Homo sapiens: one gene and its partners. The protein of the gene in region 1 purifies or fractionates together with the protein of each later gene. This does not show direct contact. Each region holds a gene or a part of one and is shown in the gene's direction. Other genes may lie near its edges.

Region 1 (6,023 bases):
GGTGACAGCGAGACTCTGGGGAAAAGGATGCTTAGTAGAATGCTTAGTGCTGAGAAATGACATGGTGAATTGACTGTCTTTCAGGTGTCTGCAGTGCTGTGTGATGATGACATCATGCTGACCATTAAGCCAGGGGAGCATGGGTCCACATACGGTGGCAATCCACTAGGCTGCCGAGTGGCCATCGCAGCCCTTGAGGTAAAGACTGATACAGCCACACAGTGTCTATTCTTTAAAGCAATGTTGAAGTGATTTTTAATTTGGGCCCACTGGTATAATAAAAAATTCAATAAGAATGCCAAATATTAGAAAACATGAAGTATAGAGGAAAAATTTTAGGAACAAGATATTCTCAAAAAGTAATTTAAACTTGGCCTAGTAGACTGGATTTCCTCCGTGGGCTTCCTGAGTTCACAGTCACCTGGCGCTTTGAGTTCTTCGGCCCTGGCTGGCCCTCATAGAACTCTCAACTGTGACCCACCTACCAGACCCGTCTTTTTGCTTAGCAAGCAAGTCTTCTTTCAAGTGTGGATTTATAATGTTTTCAGACTGATTTTTTAAGTGCCTGCTGAAGGTATACAATTATTATGTAATCTCTGAGGACAGATCTTTGTGAGGGGGGAAGAAACTATTGCAGTTTAGGAATTACATTTCGTCCATTGATGTATTCAATTAATGACAGTATGTGAGTTGCATTAAATAAACTTTAATCCTTATTTTGCCATGAATGATTGGCAATAGATTTGTGATGAAAGCAAGACTCTGAGCTAGTGTATGTTTAATTAGAAACTAATACAGGCTTTGAAAAATAGCAATGAAAGTTAAGTTCCTCTGGTATTTTATCTAGTCATGTTTTTCCTGTGTTTACAGTCCCCGTTGTCCTCCAAAAAACAAAAAAAGGACAGTCTTAATATTTGTATAATTTTTCTTTAAACGTAGGTTTTAGAAGAAGAAAACCTTGCTGAAAATGCAGACAAATTGGGCATTATCTTGAGAAATGAACTCATGAAGCTACCTTCTGATGTTGTAACTGCCGTAAGAGGAAAAGGATTATTAAACGCTATTGTCATTAAAGAAACCAAAGGTATGGAGATAAAACATTTACTCAAGATAATTTTTTAAGGAAGACCTAAAATACACTTGGTATTTAATTTAATTAATTTATTTATTTTTCGAGACGGAGTCTTGCTCTGTCTCCTAGGCTGCAGTGCCGTGGCGCAATCTTGGCTCACTGCACTCTGCCTCCTGGGTTCAAGCAATTCTCTGCCTCAGCCTCCTGAGTAGCTGGGATTACAGGCGCCTGTCACCACGCCCAGCTAATCTTTATATTTTTAATAGAGATGGGGTTTCATAATGTTGGCCAGGCTGATCTCAAACTCCTGACCTCGTGATCCACCTGCGTTGGCCTCCCAAAGTGTTGGGATTATAGGCGTGAGCCCACCGCGCCCGGCCACACTTTTTTTTTTTTTTTTTTTTTAAGATGGAGTCTTGCTCTGTTGCCAGGCTGGAGTGCAATGGCGCCATTTTGGCTGACTGCAACTTCCGATGCCCCGGTTCAAGCGATTCTCCTGCCTCAGCCTCCCGAGTAGCTGGTATTACAGGCACGTGCCAACACGCCCAGCTAATTTTTGTATTTTTGGTAGAGATGGGGTTTCACCATGTTGGCCAGGGTGGTCTCGATCTCCTGACCTCGTGATCCGCCTGCCTCAGCCTCTGAAAGTGCTGAGATGACAGGCATGAGCCACTGCTCCTGGCCACACTTGGTATTTTAATTGGGTGTTGGGATGTTCTGTTTGAAACTGCTGACTGACATAATGACCAAACCTTTTAGACAGATTATTGTCTGATTTATAATTATATTAAGAGTATAAAAAATATAGCTCTTTTCTAAATGAAGGCACATTTAACCAATTTGACCCTTGTTCCTTTAAGACACTTATTTTTCTGCCTTAAATTAGTCATGCAGTATTTAGAGAGTTCAAGTTTTTTTGTTGGTGAGTCTGGACTTGAAAGTGTCCTCTTTGCTATCCTTCCCTCCCTCACTTTGATGCTTTGTGTCAGTAGAGGTTATAGGAGCAGCAGAAATAATGATATGAATGACAGTTATGGGGTCAATAATAAAAATAATGCTGGCTGTCACTTAATTGGGTGTTTGATGTTTTAGTACATCCTTTGTAACCCTTAGGTGTTCCTTGCTGGATTTTCTTGTGATAACTCTTCCTTTTAAAGCAACGATTCCAACCTCCCAACCTTGGCTGCACTTAAAGAATCACCTGAGGGGCCGGGCGCGGTGTCTTATGCCTGTAATCCCAGCACTTTGGGAGGCCGAGACGGGTGGATCACGAGGTTAGGAGATCGAGACCATCCTGGCTAACACAGTGAAACCCCATCTCTACTAAAAATACAAAAAAATAGCCAGGCGAGGTGGTGGGTGCCTGTAGTCCCAGCTACTCAGGAGGCTGAGGCAGGAGAATCGCTTGAACCTGGGAGGTGGAGCTTGCAGTGAGCTGAGATTGCGCCGCTGCACTCCAGCCTGGGCGGCAGAGTGAGACTCCGTCTCAAAAAAAAAAAAAAAAAAAAAAAAAGAATCACCTGGGGAGCTTCTTAAAAAAATGAGTCAAAGCCTGGCCTTACCCCAGGGATTCTGATTTGACGGATCTGGGACGGGGCACAGGCATTAGCAATAGCCTTTAAGGTGATTCTGATGTGCAGCCAGGTTGAGAATCGCTGCTATAATATGTTGAGCTCAGGAAGCGAGTCCCTTTTTGGAATGTGTAGTGTTCACTGGGTTTTGAGTATTGCCCATTTTATGTCAGTTAATCATCTGTATCATACCCAAGTTCTTTTTTTTCTTTTTTAGAATTTTATTTATTTTATTTATTTTATTTTTTGAGACAGTGCCTTGCTCTGTTGGGCTGGAGTGTCTGTCGCCAGGCTGGAGTACAGTGGCATGATCTTGGCTCACTGCGACCTCCACTTCCTGGGTTCAAGCGATTCTCCTGCCTCAGCCTCCTGAGTAGCTGGGACTACAGGCATGTGCCACACCACGACAGGCTAATTTTTGTATTTTTATTAGAGATGGGGTTTCACCATGTTGGCCAGGATGGTCTCGATCTCTTGACCTCATGATCTGCCCACCTCGGCCTCCCAAAGTGCTGGGATTACAGGTGTGAGCCACTGCATCCAGCCTATACCCAAGTTCTTTTGCATTAGTTCCTTGTGTGATTAATACAGCAGCCTTAGCACATTTTTTTTTTTTTTTTTGGCTTGGTCTTTTTCATTTATGAAAAACTATGATATGTCTAATCATATCATTCAAACCTAGTTATGTGCTTGCTGAAAAGTGAAGAGTAACTTCATTTTTAGGAGTAAAAACAAAGCAAGCTTGCAGCTCCAAGCTTCCCTTTCTTTTTTTTTTGAGACGGTGTCTTGCTCTGTCACCAGGCTGGAGTGCAGTGGCGCGATCTCCGCTCACTGCAGCCTCCGCCTCCTGGTTCAAGCGATTCTCCTGCCTCAGTCTCCCGAGTAGCTGGGACTACAGGTGCGCACCATGATGCCCAGCTAATTTTTGTATTTTTAGTAGAGACGGGTTTCATAATGTTGGCCAGGATGGTTTCAATCTCTTGACCTCGTGATCCACCCACCTCGGCCTCCCAAAGTGCTGGGATTACAGGCATAAGCCACCGCTCCCAGCCCAAGCTTCCCTTAGTTGAGCAAGTTCTGTTAATTTTGTTTTGCCAGGCTGCACTTTGCCCATACATACGGCAAGGGATGTTTAAACGTTTATCTTTGAGCATGTACGTTTTACTATTTTTCTTTAGATTGGGATGCTTGGAAGGTGTGTCTACGACTTCGAGATAATGGACTTCTGGCCAAGCCAACCCATGGCGACATTATCAGGTTTGCGCCTCCGCTGGTGATCAAGGAGGATGAGCTTCGAGAGTCCATTGAAATTATTAACAAGACCATCTTGTCTTTCTGAGGGTAGCCAGCTGTTTTCAGTGGTCCCTGGGAGCCAGCTGGAGACAGGTGGTCCTGTAAAAGCTTTATTCCTAATGTGGGCACATTCCACTCCCATGAGTCTTCAAAAACTTTTTTTTTGAATATATTTTTTTCAGTTGATACATAATAGAACAACGTTTATGAACCTGCCGTTTGCTTTGTAACGTAACTAAATAATGTAATGGCATCTATATTCAGTTGAAGTGTTTTGATGTGCATGTGTACTTCCTAAGGTGAAATGCATCTATATACAGACAGCCTCTAAATCAAGTCCTTCAGTATAATTGATATATGTTTTTATAATTTCCTCACTGGTATAAGTGTTTCATATTTGAAAAAGTTATCTCTGGGTATTGCATAAAAGGCTTCATCTTATAAAGTGAAATCATTGTTATTGAATTTTAGGAAGGATTAATGGTTAAGTGTATATAAAATACTAATATTAAGTAAACTTCATATTGGCCAACACCAGGGTTGTATTCTATGGATGTCATTATTTTGAATTAAGAATTAGTGTTTAACATTCCTAAATTGTTTTGAGTGCTTGATTATAATTTGTAAAAAATGTTTATTTTCAATACTTCTTTAAATTTAAAATAAAGCTTATATTTCAAATGTCTGTTTTGTGATGATTATTCACCTTAAAAGGAAGAAGCTGAGGCAAAATTAATATAGAATGTTTAGGTGGGCCAAGGTTGGGGACTGCAGCTCGGGACACACTTCCAGGTTGCCCTGGAGAGTGCTCCAGAGAACACTTCTTAAAGAAAAAAGGATAGATCAGCTGCTCTTATACCCTCTACTGACACAAGGTGAAGGGGTGATTACAAAAGTTGTTTATCAGGAATTCTCATTGGCTTACAGAACTAACCTTGGTTAGTGATTGGCTATATGCTGTTGAACTACAGGGTATATGGCATTTGATAGATACTTGGCTTCAAGAGGTAATTATGTAGCTTGGGAGAGAGTGACCTGACTATGATTTCATTCTATTGCCTCTCTGGGCCTGATAATTTAGTTTTTATTTTTTGAGATGGAGTCTCTCTCTGTCGCCCAGGCTGCAGTGCAGTGGCACGATCTCAGCTCACTGCAACCTCCACCTCCTGGGCTCACATGATTCTCCTGTCTCGGCCTCCCGAATAGCTGGGATTACAGGTGTGCACCACCACACCCAGCTAATTTTAGTATTTTTAGTAAAGATAGGGTTTCATTAAGTTGACCAGGCTGGTCTTGAACTTCTGGCCTCAGGCGATCCCCCCAACTTGGCCTCCTAAAGTGCTGGGATTACAGGCATCAGCCCCTGTGCCTGGCCTGGGCCTGATAATTTAAAGGGGCTCACGTTCTTCAGTTACAAGATTTCTTTATTCCCCATGTCACTATGCTATTACTGCAGTGTTATCAGTTACATTTTTTTTTTTTTTTGAGATGGAGTCTTGCTCTGTTGCCCAGGCTGGAGTGCAGTGGCGCAATCTCGGCTCACTGCAAGCTCCGTGTCCTGTGTTCACGCCATTCTCCTGCCTCAGCCTCCCCAGTAGCTAGGACTATAGATGCCCGCCACCACGCCCGGCTAATTTTTTGTATTTTTAGTAGAGATGGGGTTTCACTGTGTTAGCCAGGATGGTCTTGATCTCCTGACTTTGTGATCCACCTGCCTCGGCCTCCCAAAGTGCTGGGATTACAGGCGTGAGCCACTGCGCCCAGCCTATCAGTTACATTTTTAAGCTTTTTGAGATTTATTTATTCCATGTGTTTTCTTTTTTTTGTATTCCTTTTTTTTTTTTGAGACAGAGTCTTGCTCTGTTGCCTAGGCTGGAATGCAATGGCGTGATCTCAGCTCACTGCAACCTCCGCCTCCCAGGTTCAAATGATTCTTGTGCCTCAGCCTCCCAAGTAGCTGGGACAATAGGCCTACACCACCATGCCCAGCTAATTTTTGTATTTTTAGTACAGATGGGGTTTCACCATGTTGGTCAGGCTGGTCTCGAACTCCTGACCTCAGGTGATCCACCCACCTCGGCCTCCTA
Region 2 (7,418 bases), on another chromosome or scaffold:
AAAGTAAACATTTGTCCTTTGTTGAGAAAAGAAAATAGGAAGCCAGTTTAATATTCTGCAAACATCAGTGATTTAGTAACCTGTTTCCTTTTCCTCAAGACTTTTGTACTTGCTGTTTCCCTCTGCCTAGAGCAACACTCTTGCCCCAGTTAACTGGGTAGTTCATTGCCTCACTCCTTCAAGTTTTGTGCAAATGTCACTCCCAGTGAGGCTTTCCCCAAACGTGCTATTTAAAATTGTAATCCCAGTAATCAGTGGTCCTAGTTCTACTTCCTGTTTTATTTTTCCTGTAGCACTTTATTCTCTGTTATGAATTTTACATATTTGTCTATGTCCCCTGCCAGAATATAAGATCCCTGAGAACAGAGATTTTTGCTTTGTTTACTAATGTATGCCTAGAAGCTAAAATATTGCCTACCATGTAGTAGATGTTCAACAAATGTTGAATGAGTAAGTTAATAAATGTATGAAGTTATACATATTTAACACAGGGTCAATTTTAAACCTCGGAGCTTCTCATAGGAACATACTAGCGAAAGAAGAAAATGTTTTACAATAAATTATTAAGATGATTTCGTAAACATTTGCTATAGAAACTTTTATGATTATTGGGTTTTTTTAATTTATTTGCAGGGTTCAGTTTGGCAAAGACTTGGTGCAGATGTGACAGCAGTTGAATTTTTAGGTCATGTAGGTGGAGTTGGAATTGATATGGAGATATCTAAAAACTTTCAACGCATCCTTCAAAAACAGGGGTTTAAATTTAAATTGAATACAAAGGTTACTGGTGCTACCAAGAAGTCAGATGGAAAAATTGATGTTTCGTAAGTATACATCATTTGTTTTTGATGTATCATCCCTGTCTCTTTAAGCAAAACACTCAAGTTTCAAAATCAGTTTAGCAAATATAGGGTTTTTTCTAACTTAAGGTCATTTTATTACTTAATATAACTCAGTTGCTTATCAAATTATTGCATTAGCACATTGAAATTTATGATTAGGTTAATGCTAGAAAGAGAATCCAATATTCTCATTGTTGTGCCTTCTTATAGTACATTCAGAAAAATTTAAATTCCCAATAATAAGTAAAATTGAATCAATATTTTTAGGCAGATACATGGGGAAATCAATAATAAAAGATTGCTTACTATATGTCTGGTACTCTACTGATTAAATACTTTAATGGCATTTAACTTATTGAATTAGTTTTTAAATAAATATTTAAATTAAATAGTTAATAGTATTTAAATAGTTTAATGACTTTTACTCAAAGATAAGAAGCTGAATTCATTGACTAATTAATGACTAACTTGTCACACAGCTAGTGGGTGGCAGTCAGTAGTTGAATTTGGATTTCTGTGACTCAAAGACCTGTATTCTTAACTGCTGTTTTATTATACTGTGGTTTTTGTGAGATTTTAATAACAGACCTCTAGATTTTAATGATAGATCTCTTTCATTGTCTGACTCTTATGTTTATATTCAAATAAACTTATATTGTTAAAAATGTCATCAGTGCCGGCTGGGCATGGTGGCTCACACCTGTAATCCCAGCATTTTGGGAGGCTGAGATGGGCAGATCATGAAGTCAAGAGATCAAGACCAGCCTGGCAACATGGTGAAACCCCGTCTCTACTAAAAATACAAAAATTAGCTGGGCGTGGTGGCGCGTGCCTGTAGTCCCAGCTACTAGGGAGGCTGAGGCAGGAGAATCTCTGGAACCTGGGAGGTGGAGGTTGCAGTGAGCCGAGATTGCACCACTGTACTCCAGTCTGGCGACAGAGCAAGACTCTGTCTCAAAAACAAAACAAAACAAAAATGAAAATGTCATCAACACTTGAGAAATTGCTGGCCTTAAATTTCTAAGCCTATCAATTTATGTAGGTGTGTATTTAACATTTATACACTGTTTGTTATCTAGTATTGAAGCTGCTTCTGGTGGTAAAGCTGAAGTTATCACTTGTGATGTACTCTTGGTTTGCATTGGCCGACGACCCTTTACTAAGAATTTGGGACTAGAAGAGCTGGGAATTGAACTAGATCCCAGAGGTAGAATTCCAGTCAATACCAGATTTCAAACTAAAATTCCAAAGTAAGTTGGATAATTGTCTGCATTTTCAGTAATTTTAAAATTGATTTCAAACAGTATTTTGAAAAGTAAGATTTTTATGCTTAAAATATGTATTGGCTTTGGGGAAGAATAGTAAACTTACAAAATGTAAAATAAAAAATAACTGAATTTTACTCAAAGATAAGCTGAATTCATAGATTTTTGAAGAGCTGCATTTGATGTATTTTTTGGTGACTTGTTTACTGGAAACTTTTGTTACCATAATGTAACTGAAGGTAAGTAGCTGTGATTTCAGAAATTCATTGTGTTTCTTTTGATTTCTGTGGTAGTATCTATGCCATTGGTGATGTAGTTGCTGGTCCAATGCTGGCTCACAAAGCAGAGGATGAAGGCATTATCTGTGTTGAAGGAATGGCTGGTGGTGCTGTGCACATTGACTACAATTGTGTGCCATCAGTGATTTACACACACCCTGAAGTTGCTTGGGTTGGCAAATCAGAAGAGCAGTTGAAAGAAGAGGTAAGTCTGAACATGGGTGGTTTTAAGCCAATGTGTGAGTTGTGCCAATGACATTGGTGGTTGAGAAACAGCATTTTATCATTATGCTAATATATTTAACAGCTGTGAAATATTGTTTAGCTTATATATTTTTCCCTTGTTAGCATTATAAAGAGATCATTCACAGATTTATCAGCAGTAATTGAGAGGAAGAGAAGTTGCCTATATTAAAAAACTAGTAATTCCAGATCTTTTATATTTGGCTTTGAAATATAACCAGATGGACAGACATTTGTATTTGCTTGTATTCGTGCCTGAGATATAGTTCATTAACCAGTCTTCTGGTCTTTCCTTTCCTTCTATGTGCTTTGCGAACAATTCCCTTCTTGGGATTTATTTTCTGAACAAATGGTAGATGATTTTACAAATTGGAAAGAACTTTTCTGGCAGTTACGTAGATTCTTTTTTTCTGACTGTCACAGGGTATTGAGTACAAAGTTGGGAAATTCCCATTTGCTGCTAACAGCAGAGCTAAGACAAATGCTGACACAGATGGCATGGTGAAGATCCTTGGGCAGAAATCGACAGACAGAGTACTGGGAGCACATATTCTTGGACCAGTGAGTATTGTAAAACCAGAGAAATCCCATTAAGATTTCTAGAAAGCATTGCTGTTTATTAATTATAAACCACCTGGTGTTAGTCTGAGGTTGCTCATTTCCAGCAAAACTTTGAATATGGCTCTCTGTGCATCATTTCTAGAAGGATACCAGCAGCACTCTCACAGTCTTGCCCACTGTATCATCTACTTTGTCCTGCAGCCAAGATTCTCTCTTTAAAACATACACCAGATTATGCCCCTTAAAATCCTCCAGTGGTGCTTTTCAACTTCAGATTGTTACATCCAAGGCCTCACTGAATCTGTTTGTGCCTACTTCTCTGACCTCTTCTTTTTCTGCTCTCTTTTACTCATTAATGCCATGTCACATGGGCCTTCTCTCATTTTCACAACAGACCAAATATTTGCATTTTAGGGCCTTTGTGCTTAAGATACCCTCTGCTTAGACTGTTCTGCCTCCAGATCTTTGAATGGCTGGCTCCTTATTATTCAGGTCTCAGCTCAAATGTTACCTCCTAAGGGAAGCCTTTCCTACCACTGAGCCTAAAGTATGTATCTTTCTTGTAGATATCTCTTGTATCTGATGTAACAATAATGAGAATAGAATATTTGAGTGCTGTGTCACTTTAGTATACATTTTGTTATTTTTACATCAGCTTTTTGAAATAGGTGCTGTTATTTTTGAGGTGAAGAAACTGAATGAAGCACAAAGAACCAATGAATGGTTAAGGTAGTAAGTGGTAGATATGAATTGAAGGCCCTTTGGCTCCAGAGCCCAAGCTCTTCTGTGTCACCTTTTCTATTAAGCTTTTCCTGACTTTTCTTCAACTGATAAAGAAACAGATTTAAGGCGTTTTTAAGATCTAAAAGCTTCCCCTCAACAATTGCTATCCTATTAGCATGTAGTTTTTGCCTTGGAAGCAAATTTACTTGGCTTGTTATTTTAAAGGGTGCTGGAGAAATGGTAAATGAAGCTGCTCTTGCTTTGGAATATGGAGCATCCTGTGAAGATATAGCTAGAGTCTGTCATGCACATCCGGTAATTATTAACAACATATAGAATTGATGGTTGCCTAAATTTTCTTCTGACCCACAAATATTTGGATTTTAATTTTAAATTTCTTCCCTTGCAGACCTTATCAGAAGCTTTTAGAGAAGCAAATCTTGCTGCGTCATTTGGCAAATCAATCAACTTTTGAATTAGAAGATTATATATATTTTTTTCTGAAATTTCCTGGGAGCTTTTGTAGAAGTCACATTCCTGAACAGGATATTCTCACAGCTCCAAGAATTTCTAGGACTGAATTATGAAACTTTTGGAAGGTATTTAATAGGTTTGGACAAAATGGAATACTCTTATATCTATATTTTACATAAATTTAGTATTTTGTTTCAGTGCACTAATGTGTAAGACAAAAAGCTACTTATTGTAGCATCCTGGAATATCTCCGTCAACTCATATTTTCATGCTGTTCATGAAAGATTCAATGCCCCTGAATTTAAATAGCTTTTTTCTCTGATACAGAAAAGTTGAATTTTACATGGCTGGAGCTAGAATTTGATATGTGAACAGTTGTGTTTGAAGCACAGTGATCAAGTTATTTTTAATTTGGTTTTCACATTGGAAACAAGTCAGTCATTCAGATATGATTCAAATGTCTATAAACCGAACTGATGTAAGTAAACGGTCTCTCACTTGTTTTATTTAACCTCTAAATTCTTTCATTTTAGGGGTAGCATTTGTGTTGAAGAGGTTTTAAAGCTTCCATTGTTGTCTGCAACTCTGAAGGGTAATTATATAGTTACCCAAATTAAGAGAGTCTATTTACGGAACTCAAATACGTGGGCATTCAAATGTATTACAGTGGGGAATGAAGATACTGAAATAAACGTCTTAAATATTCATTTACTGGTTATCATGAGTACGTGTTGAGATGGTCATAGTTTTTTTTATGACTACTTCTAGTGTATATTCTAATTTCTTTTCTAGGCCTGAATGTATCTTTATTTTCATGTTATAGGACAATATTAAGGCATTTTAAAGGTCATCATCCTTTCATCTATTTTAGATACACCTACTAAATGTTTAATATATACTTTTGGAGAAGTACAACATAAGGGAGTCTTTAATCTGTGTTTTCCTTGGCTGGGTTAATGACTGTTTATTTAAAGAGTGTTGTAAAATTGGATGTGTGGTGTTTAAAATGGCCATGTCCTGAGGAAACTTAAGTAACAAAGTACTAAATGCTAAGTAGGCTTTTGCATATTGTAACTAAATTTAAGAATAATTCAGATTAAGTAGTTCTGAAATTTGGTATAGATAGCATAGATTGTCTCATGCTCATGAGTGACATAATGACCCTGGATTCTGTTACATACTTCTAAAGAAAATTGATTGTTGTCTTAGGAGGCAGTTAACTTGGCTGAACACCAACTCCACACTCTGTCTTGTTTGTAGGTGGCAGCAGCTGAAATCTCTTCTCAGTTGTTTTAGCTTTAGCTATGCTGCTGGAAGTCTTTCCCATGCAAGTGTGTAGTTCAGGGGTCAACCAGAGTTTGGGCAGAAGGAAGTCTGCCCCTTCTGTGCCTCCTGTTTTTTGGGGGTTTCCCCTTTATGTTCCAGCTGTTGTGGTTGCCCCATATTCTGCCTTCTGATCCTTAACCAATAAAACTTGGCTTTTGTTTCCCCCTCAAGTGAGAACCCGTTAAAAATGAGACATTGAGCCAGTGCTGTTCACTTTTTAAGTGCCAACTTCCCTCTACTTTCCACTTGTTTATAGTTGTTTCCAGTGCCTTTAGTTTTTTCTAAAATATATTTGTTCAGAGTTTGCAGTTGCTATCAGCAGGAGGGTTGGTCTGATATCTGTGTGCTACTTTGCCATTATTGGAAGTGAACTCTGCATCTTTTTAAAAATTTGAAATCCCGGTATCATGTGAAGTGCTGTTTATGTAAATCTCAACATATCCCTTACTCAGGGAAAAAAAAGTTTTTAGTTAGGGAATAGTGAAATATAATTTAATATGGAATTCTAGCTGTAGAGTTAAATCCATCTTTAAGTGTTTACATTCAGTATGAGAATGCAAATTTATCTGTATGGGGAATAAAGTCCTAGGAATAAAACAAGTTTTAAGTGTTCACTTACTGTTATCTACTAAGCTGTCAATATTTTTGTGGCTTGTGAAGAGTGAAATTAATTGTCCACTTCATTGAACTGATTAAAATTAGTAATTTCAACTGGCTGGGAGCGGTGGCTCACTCCTGTAATCCCAGCACTTTGGGAGGCCGGGGCGGGCAGATCACCTGCGGTCAGGAGTTTGAGACCAACCTGACCAATGTGGTAAAACCCCATCTCTACTAAAAATATAAAAATTAGCCAGGTGTGGTGGCAGGCCCCTGTAATCCCAACTACTCAGGAGGCTGAGGCAGAATCACTTGAACCCAGGAGGCGGTGAGCTGAGATCATGCCACTGCATTCTAGCCTGGCGACAGAGCGAAACTCCGTCTCAAAAAAAAAAAAAAAGTAATTTCAAAGTGAGATCTTTAGTTGTTTAGCTGAAAAGGAATGGAGAGTGTTTCTACTGTTCTAAGTAAAATACTACATAATTGCTCTAGTAGATGATGGGGTATGACCATTTTTGCTAGTTATTGGGATTTTTTTTTTTAATTAAGTTCTGGGGTACATGTGCAGAACATGCAGGTTTGTTACATAGGTATACATGTGCCATGGTGGTTTGCTGCACCCATCAACCCATCATCTACATTAGGTATTTCTCTTAATGCTATCCCTCCCCCACCCCCATCCCCTTGTCCATGTGTTTTCATTGTTCACCTCCCACTTACAAGTGAGAACATGTGGTGTTTGGTTTTCTATTTTTGTGTTAGTTTGCTGAGAACGATGGTTTCCAGCTTCATCCATGTCCCTGCAAAGGATGTGAACTCATCCTTTATTATGGCTGCATAGTATTCCATGGTGTATATGTGCCACATTTTCTTTATCCATTCTGTCATAGATGGGCATTTGGGTTGGTTCCAAGTCTTTGCTATTGTGAACAGTGCCTCAATAAACATACATGTGCATGTGTCTTTATAGTAGAATGATTTATAATCCTTCGGGTATATACCCAGTAATAGCATTGCTGGGTCAAATGGTATTTCTAGTTCTAGATCCTTGAGGAATTGCCACACTGTCTTCCACAATGGTTGAACTAATTTACACTCCCACTAACAGT
Region 3 (7,902 bases), about 25 Mb from region 1:
AGTAAGTGCTCATTATTACCTTATTTTTGTAAATATTATCTGACCTCACCATTATCAGCCTGTGACCCTGTTTCTTCTCTTTCAGGTAGGAGGTGTGCAATCTTTGGGGGGAACAGGTGCACTTCGAATTGGAGCTGATTTCTTAGCGCGTTGGTACAATGGAACAAACAACAAGAACACACCTGTCTATGTGTCCTCACCAACCTGGGGTGAGTCTTTCAGCTGAAGTGAGAGGAAAAACAGAAACCAGAGAGAATTATCCTCATGACTCTCCCTGGTTACACAGAAAATGTAATCCAGCCCTAGAACAACTGACTGTTGGGAATGGCTTGAACAGTGGGTTATGGCAGTGCATGAGAAACCTGCTGCTCAAAATCAAGTTAAGAATACTCTTTCTCAAGACTCTTAGTAGACTTGTATCTACCAAGGCTATGTTGAAACTCCCCAGAGGAGGCATAGAATGTAGATGCAGGAAGTATCATTGTAGTAGAATATAAGTCTGGCATTAATGTGACTGGTTGAACTTGTTCTTGGTTACAATCATTCCTCTACATCTTAACCCCCAGCCTGGATGATGCCCAGTGGACATTGAGCCTGGGAGGGCCCTGGAAGCTGACTTGCATCCTTTCCACTCATGCCTCCTAGTGTTTGTAAAGTGCTTAACTTTTTACTTCTTTGCATGCAGAGAATCACAATGCTGTGTTTTCCGCTGCTGGTTTTAAAGACATTCGGTCCTATCGCTACTGGGATGCAGAGAAGAGAGGATTGGACCTCCAGGGCTTCCTGAATGATCTGGAGGTGGGTGATTTAGAGGAAAAAGTAGAGAATTGCATGGTGTCAGGAATCTCAGGCAAAGTCTTTGGACCAGTTGCTAAGTGAAGGAGTCTGAGACACCTTCCCCATACCTGATGGTGGTTTCTGACATAGCATGTAAGAGAGAGGGCACAAAAGAGACATGAAAGAGTGACAAGAATATGGTTGCCCTTTGCCCTCCATCACTGACCAATCTGCTGCTGACTCTGTCTCCCAATATTCCCATCAGTGTCAGAGCTGACATAGCTTCCTTCTCCTCAGAATGCTCCTGAGTTCTCCATTGTTGTCCTCCACGCCTGTGCACACAACCCAACTGGGATTGACCCAACTCCGGAGCAGTGGAAGCAGATTGCTTCTGTCATGAAGGTAACTGCCCCTTCAGAGCATCTCTTAAAAAATAGTATATATTCTTATTTAATGTATGTAGAAGCAATACCTGTTTGCTGTTTGCTGAGGAATTAGGAAAATGGAGAAAAGTCCAAAGAAGAAAATAAGTATTAACTGTAAATTTTATTACCTAAAGAAAGATACTGTTAATGTTTTGGTAGATAGAATGTCAGACTGTGTGTGTGTGTGTGTGTGTGTGTGTGTGTGTGTGTGTCTAGTTTTATGTATATGTTTTACAAAGATGAGATCATTTTGTCTGTACTGTTTTGTGCAACACAATTTGTTTTTCATTTTCACTTCTTTATATACATGTCATTGAATATTTTGCAGCATCATTTTTCATAGCTATATTATATTTCTTTCATGGATATGTCATATTAGGGATGGGGTAAATCATCTGATGAATATTTAGGTTTACTTCAGATTGCTTGATCTGATGAAAAATTATGTAACAAAATTTCCTTTTATTATTTCTTTGGCGTAACTTTCTAGGTGGGAATTCCTAGCTGAAAGTGTGTATATTCTTCCTTAACGAGTTTGTAGAATACTTATTAAGGAACTGCTGTGTATTGGACACTGTGGGAATACACTATTGAATGGAGCAGATGCAGTCCCTACCCTCAAAGACAGACAGCCTGTTTGGGGAGATGGACGAGTACTAAGGCAGCTGTGATGCTGTGAGATAGCTGTGTTGACAGTGTTATAGGGGGGTACATAGCCCAGACTTTGGGCAGTGTATATGTGGGAGTTGGCGGGTTGGTGGCAGGAACCTTCCTGGAAGCAGTGGTTTCTATGTTGAGTCCTGTAGGATGGGGAGGAGCTAAGAAGGCATCAGCAGACAGGGGTTGACAGGGAAGGGATGTGCTCTGCAGAGGACGGAGCATGGTCAGAAGCCCCAGGCAGACATCATGGGGAGTGTGAGTGATGAGGCTAGAGTGAATAGGGGCAGGGTCTGTGCTGAGGCTTGGACTTTATTCTCAGGGCAGTGCGGAGCCACTGAAATCTTGGATGTCGGGGAGTGACATGATTGGATGTGCATGGTCTTAAGGCCACCCTGATGTCATAGCAGGGAATGGGTCAGAGAGAGGCAAGACTAGACAGGCCGTGGGAGCAGTTAGGAGACCATTGCCATAGCCCAGGTAGGAGTTGATGGTGACCTGGATGAAGTAGGTAGCAGTGGGGACAGTGAGATGCAAAAGGATTTGGGAGCTCTGAAGAGACAGGACTGATGAGACTTGGGGAGTGCCAGGATGTGGGGGATGAGCTGCAGAGTTAGGAGTCCAGATTCCCCCCAGTCCCACCTAGTCAAGATAAACCTAAGAGATGGGAATCAAAGTACAACCAAAGATTTGGACAGTTCCGGGGAGGGAAGTGGTGTCCACTCAGAGAGCACAGCTGTAGAAGCAGGTTCCCTGTGGAGAGCTCTTTGAGGAGATGAGTGACAGGAATGGAGGCTACTCTGTTCCCTTCCTCTTGAGTACCTAGCAGAATAGCCCATGAGGAGCCCTGGGGATACCAAGCCTACACTTGACTAAGGCTCTCACGCCAGAAATTCACAGAGGAAAATCCACAATGTAGGACATTGTCTCCTTGCATCAAAAGTAAGCCCTGTTTCTCTAAGCTGAATTGGGACACTCTAGGACAATTTACTTTTAAAAAGTAAAGTTTACGGAAAAGGTTACACTTGTTGGTTGTAGAGAGAAATGGATGTAAAGTGGAGCTTGGGTGCATATAGTCAAGAAATAGGAGAAATGGACAGCATTTGAAATTCCCTCCAGGCATCAGCTGGGGAAGGAAGGCCGGTGTCTGAGGTTGGTGCCAGAAGGATTTCCTGCCCTGACTCACTTTGCTTCCCCGCAGCACCGGTTTCTGTTCCCCTTCTTTGACTCAGCCTATCAGGGCTTCGCATCTGGAAACCTGGAGAGAGATGCCTGGGCCATTCGCTATTTTGTGTCTGAAGGCTTCGAGTTCTTCTGTGCCCAGTCCTTCTCCAAGAACTTCGGGCTCTACAGTGAGTGCTCTCCTGAGGAGTTACAGCCCCACCTCCTCGCATCACTCCCTGCTTCAGCAGCCACAGCTGATTCTGGTCCCTCTCTTTAGATGAGAGAGTCGGGAATCTGACTGTGGTTGGAAAAGAACCTGAGAGCATCCTGCAAGTCCTTTCCCAGATGGAGAAGATCGTGCGGATTACTTGGTCCAATCCCCCCGCCCAGGGAGCACGAATTGTGGCCAGCACCCTCTCTAACCCTGAGCTCTTTGAGGAATGGTAAGGGGCTCCCAGTCTGGTGGGCCGGGGGGTGGGGAGTGCAGAACAGTAATTGTCCCAGTACATTTAACTGGGTCTCTTCCTTTCATTTTGGCAGAAGCAGGATAAAATTACTTTAACTTCTTTGACTCTCAGATATTTGTAAAACAGGGGCTGATATCTACCTCACACGTGCATAACACAACACCTGGAAGACAGGAGGGGGCACTCGATGAATGGTAGTTTTCCCCAATTTCCCCCCCCACCCAGTCTTCCTCTCCATGAAGTTGGAAAACCCAAGAAGGTATTCCCAGCAAAATAGAATATCGAACGTCTAGGCAGTTTAACAGTTTGGGAGCTCTTGGTTTTTATCTGTAATTTACATACACTTTATCTTATTTTAGAACAGTAATTTTTATATAGTAGCTAAATCTGCAATCTTTATTTAGTAAGTCCTGATGAAACATATTGCCCTATTAATATCTATAGCAGCACCTCGGTGAAGCCTGAGTTGAAATGTGAGTGTATTCTAGCCAGTATACCCAAGACTAGCACTAGACTCACTAGTAAATGCAGTCCTTTCCTTCTGCCCCCTAAGTCTCTCTCTCTGGTATGTTAATCCACCCATCCAGACATCCACATGCCATAATAGGCAGGTTATGATCCCATTGTCAGCTGTCGTTTAAATTAGAGTTTTTAAACCTGTGTGTTTTCGGGTACCATCTTTCCTGTCTGGATTGGTATTTACGTCACTGTCCATGCTTCAGGACAGGTAATGTGAAGACAATGGCTGACCGGATTCTGACCATGAGATCTGAACTCAGGGCACGACTAGAAGCCCTCAAAACCCCTGGGACCTGGAACCACATCACTGATCAAATTGGCATGTTCAGCTTCACTGGGTTGAACCGTAAGTGGCCCCCACCACCTCCAGCCCATGCGTGCATGTAGACACACAACATTCCTTTCAGTCGCTCGCCTTGAGCTGAGCTCACTTTCACAGCCTTTGCCTAATTGGGCAGCCATTGCTTTGGACCAGGACAAGTTAGGTTTTCTTAGGGTGTCCCACCATCTCATAAACTCTCTGGGTCTCAGAAGAGTATTGTGGTCTGCCCTGCTGACCCACAGCCAAGATATTTCCGTGTTTGTGGGCTGGGAAGTGGCTCAGAGCCAGCTGGGAGGTAACAGGATTGGTAGCTGGGAGCCTTAATTTATGAAAGGTTCTTATAAATGCTCAGGTACATTTTGGGTTTGCCTTAATCCTGAATATAATGATTATTCAGGGAACTGATTTCTTGACAGGTCTTTCTTATTTCTAGGTATTATCCTCAAAAAGAGATTACAAAGTTATCTCTGCATTTCATAAACAAGAACCTAGATTGGGCTGGGCACAGTGGCTCACACCTGTAATCCCAACACTTTGGGAGGCTGAGGTGGGCAGATCACGAGATCAGGAGATCAAGACCATCCTGGCTAACATGGTGAAACCCCGTGTCTATTAAAAATACAAAAAAATTAGCCGGGCGTGGTGGCAGGCGCCTGTAGTCCCAGCTACTAGGGAGACTGAGGCAGGAGAATCACTTGAATCCAGGAGGCAGAGCTTGCAGTGAGTCGAGACCGCACCACTGCACTCCAGCCTGGGCGACAGAGCGAGACTCCGTCTCAAAAAAAAAAGAAAAGAACCTAGATTGGTGGTTGGAATTAAAAGCTGATTGAAAATCTAGTAGGTGGTCATGCATGGTCTTGGTCAATTGTCAGTAGGGCACATCTGCCATCTGCAGTCCCATCTGATGACAGAAGAGTCATTTCTTCTTTTTTTTTTTGAGATGGAGTCTTGCTCTGTTGCCCAGGCTGGAGTGCAGTGGTGTGATCTCGACTCACTGCAACCTCCGCCTCCCGGCTTCAGGTTATTCTCCTGCCTCAGCCTCCCGAGTAGCTGAGATTACAGGCGTCATTTCTTTAGTAATTCCCACAGTGCAGATGTGGCGACTCACCTGTGTGTCCCAGTGACTCTAGGGAGGGATGTGTGGCTGGCTTGGTTTGTAGGCAGAACGGCAGAGGCCGTGGGGAGGTATTTAACTGGGGCCATCACAGTGCCAGTGTGAAGTGGGCTCAGAAAAATCCAAAGGAAATAAATATAAATGGCAGTTAATAGAGCTTGTATTGTGGACCCCTCAAAATACTTTGGGGTAAAATGAAGCTACCTAAGAAAGTAAAGAAATAGCTCAGTTAGCTGTAGATGTCCTCTTGACTGAGGAACAGAGAATTAGTTCACTCACAATTATAAAAATATTACATGTAACAGAAATATTAATAGTCTTTAGTAGTAATAGTCTAAAAGCTCACAATATGGGAATGTCTCCCTGTAAAATATCCATATCTTCCCATTATCCACAGGAGGAAATTAGTTTTATTAATATCACGAATTGGAAAAATGATGAGAATAGAACTGTGCTTATAACACAAAAGTTATATTTTTAGCGCTTGGCATCATTTGCCCTTATTAAAAACAGGGGTTTTGTTTTCCTCCCAACTTTTTTTTTCTTTTTGAGACAGAGTCTTGCTCTGTTGCTCAGGCTGGAGTGCAGTGGCACAATCTTGGCTCACTGCAACCTCCACCTCCTGGATTCAAGCGATTCTCCTGCCTCAGCCTCTCAAGTAGCTGGGACTACAGGCATGAGCCACCACACCCAGCTAATTTTTGTATTTTTAGTAGAGACAGGGTTTCACCATGTTGACCAGGCTGGTCTCAAACTCCTGACCTTAAGTGATCTACCTGCCTTGGCCTCCCACAGTGCTGGGATTACAGGCGTGAGCCACTGTGCCTGGCCTTTTTTGTTTGTTTGTTTGTTTCAGACACGGTCTCGCTCTGTCACCCAGGGTGGAGTACAGCGGTGCAATCTCGGGCCACTGCAACTTCTGCCCCCTGGGCTCAGGTGATCATTCCACCTCAGTGTCCAAGTGGCTGGGACCACAGGCGTGAACCACCATGCCCGGCTAATTTTTTGTAGAAACGGGGTCTCACCATATTGCTCAGGCTGGTCTCAAACTCCTGAGCTCAAGTGATCTGCCCGCCTCGGTCTCCCAAGGTGCTGGGATTACAGGCATGAGCCACTGCACCTGGCCAGAAAAGTTTTAAACATACAGAAAAGTTGGAGGAATTGTACAGTGAACCCCTATATATCCGCCACCTAGTTTCTACAATTCTCACATTACAATACTTCCTTTGTTATCTTTTTTCTGTCAGAATGGGGCTTTTAACCTGGAATCCCTGGATGTACGTTTAGGAGAACTGTGAAGCCCCTGAAATGATGTTTAAAAAATTGTATATGTGTATTTTGGCCCTGCTCTAGGGAAAGAGTCCATAACTTTTACTAGCTTTTCAAACTGTGACACTTCCCTTCTCTGAAAAAGTAGAAAGGCCTCATTTTTACTAAAACAAAACCAAAAGCCAGGGTAGGAGTCATTTAATCACTGCCTCAGGGCACAGGCTTTTAGAAAGAGTGGCACACCCAGGGCTGTGTTGGCTTGAGGCTCTATCCCCTTGGGTGACCAATTCACACAGGTAAACCTCTTCTTAAGCTTGCTTTCTTTGTTCACTGGTTTGGAGGGGTCAAGGGAAAACTTACCCTTTGCCCTCTGAAAGTTTGCTGGAAATCAGCTGACAAGAGGCAGATTAATAGGAGAAAAGGCATACAAATTTATTTATTTATTTTTGAGTCAGAGTCTCACTCTGTTGCCCAGGCTGGAGTGCGGCGTCACAATCATGGCTTACTGTAGCCTCAACCTCCCAGGCCCAAGCAATCCACCCACCTCAGCCTTCGTAGTACCTGGGACCACAGGTGTGTGCCACCATGCCCGGCTAATTTTTAAGATTTTTTTGTAGAGACAGGGTCTCCTTATGATGCCCAGGCTGGTCGTCAACTCCTGGGCTCAAGCAATCCTCCCTCCTCAGCCTCCCAAAGTACTTGGATTACAGGCATGAGCCACTGTGCCTGGCCAGCATGCAAATTTATTAACTTGCACAGGTGTCTTACAAAATAGAACTCAAATAAATGGCCAGATGATTGATGCTTTTATACCATCTTGGGGTTATAGAAAGAATGGGAGCTTGGAGCTTGCCAGAACAGATTATGGCAGGCAGAGAAGAGAAGGCCTGGTTAGCAAAGGTGGTCTTGTTATATTATGTAGATAAGACAGGTAGCAGCCCTCGGAGAAAATAGCGGTAAAGGTCTATTTCTTTTAGACCTTTAAAGGCATCACACTCTCAGTTAATCTCCCCTAGATCTGGACAAGGGAGGGCCTCAGAGAAAGCCTAGCTGCAGCCATGCAGATTTTCTCTACAGATACAGATCTCTCCCACAAAAGACAGCTTTGCAGGGCTACTTCTGTATGTAGGCCCTCTCAACAGCCATCTCAAAATATGTCAAAGTATATTTTGGGGTGAACTATTTTGG

The links.
Region 2: the proteins of OAT (region 1) and DLD purify together in Homo sapiens (affinity purification with mass spectrometry; 2 studies listed by BioGRID, with this or other methods). This does not show direct contact.
Region 3: the proteins of OAT (region 1) and GOT1 fractionate together in Homo sapiens (co-fractionation; 2 studies listed by BioGRID). This does not show direct contact.

Annotation. Positions count from the first base shown.
Region 1 is NC_000010.11:124,395,901-124,401,923, reverse strand, and holds the end of OAT (ornithine aminotransferase, mitochondrial isoform 1 precursor), read left to right. Parts: intron 1-84; coding exon 85-198; intron 199-939; coding exon 940-1,084; intron 1,085-3,821; coding exon 3,822-3,982; 3' UTR 3,983-4,621; downstream 4,622-6,023. UniProt on the Homo sapiens protein: Catalyzes the reversible interconversion of L-ornithine and 2-oxoglutarate to L-glutamate semialdehyde and L-glutamate.
Region 2 is NC_000007.14:107,914,873-107,922,290, forward strand, and holds the end of DLD (dihydrolipoyl dehydrogenase, mitochondrial isoform 1 precursor), read left to right. Parts: intron 1-633; coding exon 634-824; intron 825-1,921; coding exon 1,922-2,092; intron 2,093-2,400; coding exon 2,401-2,590; intron 2,591-3,051; coding exon 3,052-3,189; intron 3,190-4,137; coding exon 4,138-4,227; intron 4,228-4,321; coding exon 4,322-4,387; 3' UTR 4,388-6,326; downstream 6,327-7,418. UniProt on the Homo sapiens protein: Lipoamide dehydrogenase is a component of the glycine cleavage system as well as an E3 component of three alpha-ketoacid dehydrogenase complexes (pyruvate-, alpha-ketoglutarate-, and branched-chain amino acid-dehydrogenase complex).
Region 3 is NC_000010.11:99,399,033-99,406,934, reverse strand, and holds part of GOT1 (aspartate aminotransferase, cytoplasmic), read left to right. Parts: intron 1-85; coding exon 86-209; intron 210-685; coding exon 686-798; intron 799-1,074; coding exon 1,075-1,179; intron 1,180-3,060; coding exon 3,061-3,211; intron 3,212-3,300; coding exon 3,301-3,466; intron 3,467-4,212; coding exon 4,213-4,355; intron 4,356-7,902. UniProt on the Homo sapiens protein: Biosynthesis of L-glutamate from L-aspartate or L-cysteine. Important regulator of levels of glutamate, the major excitatory neurotransmitter of the vertebrate central nervous system. Acts as a scavenger of glutamate in brain neuroprotection.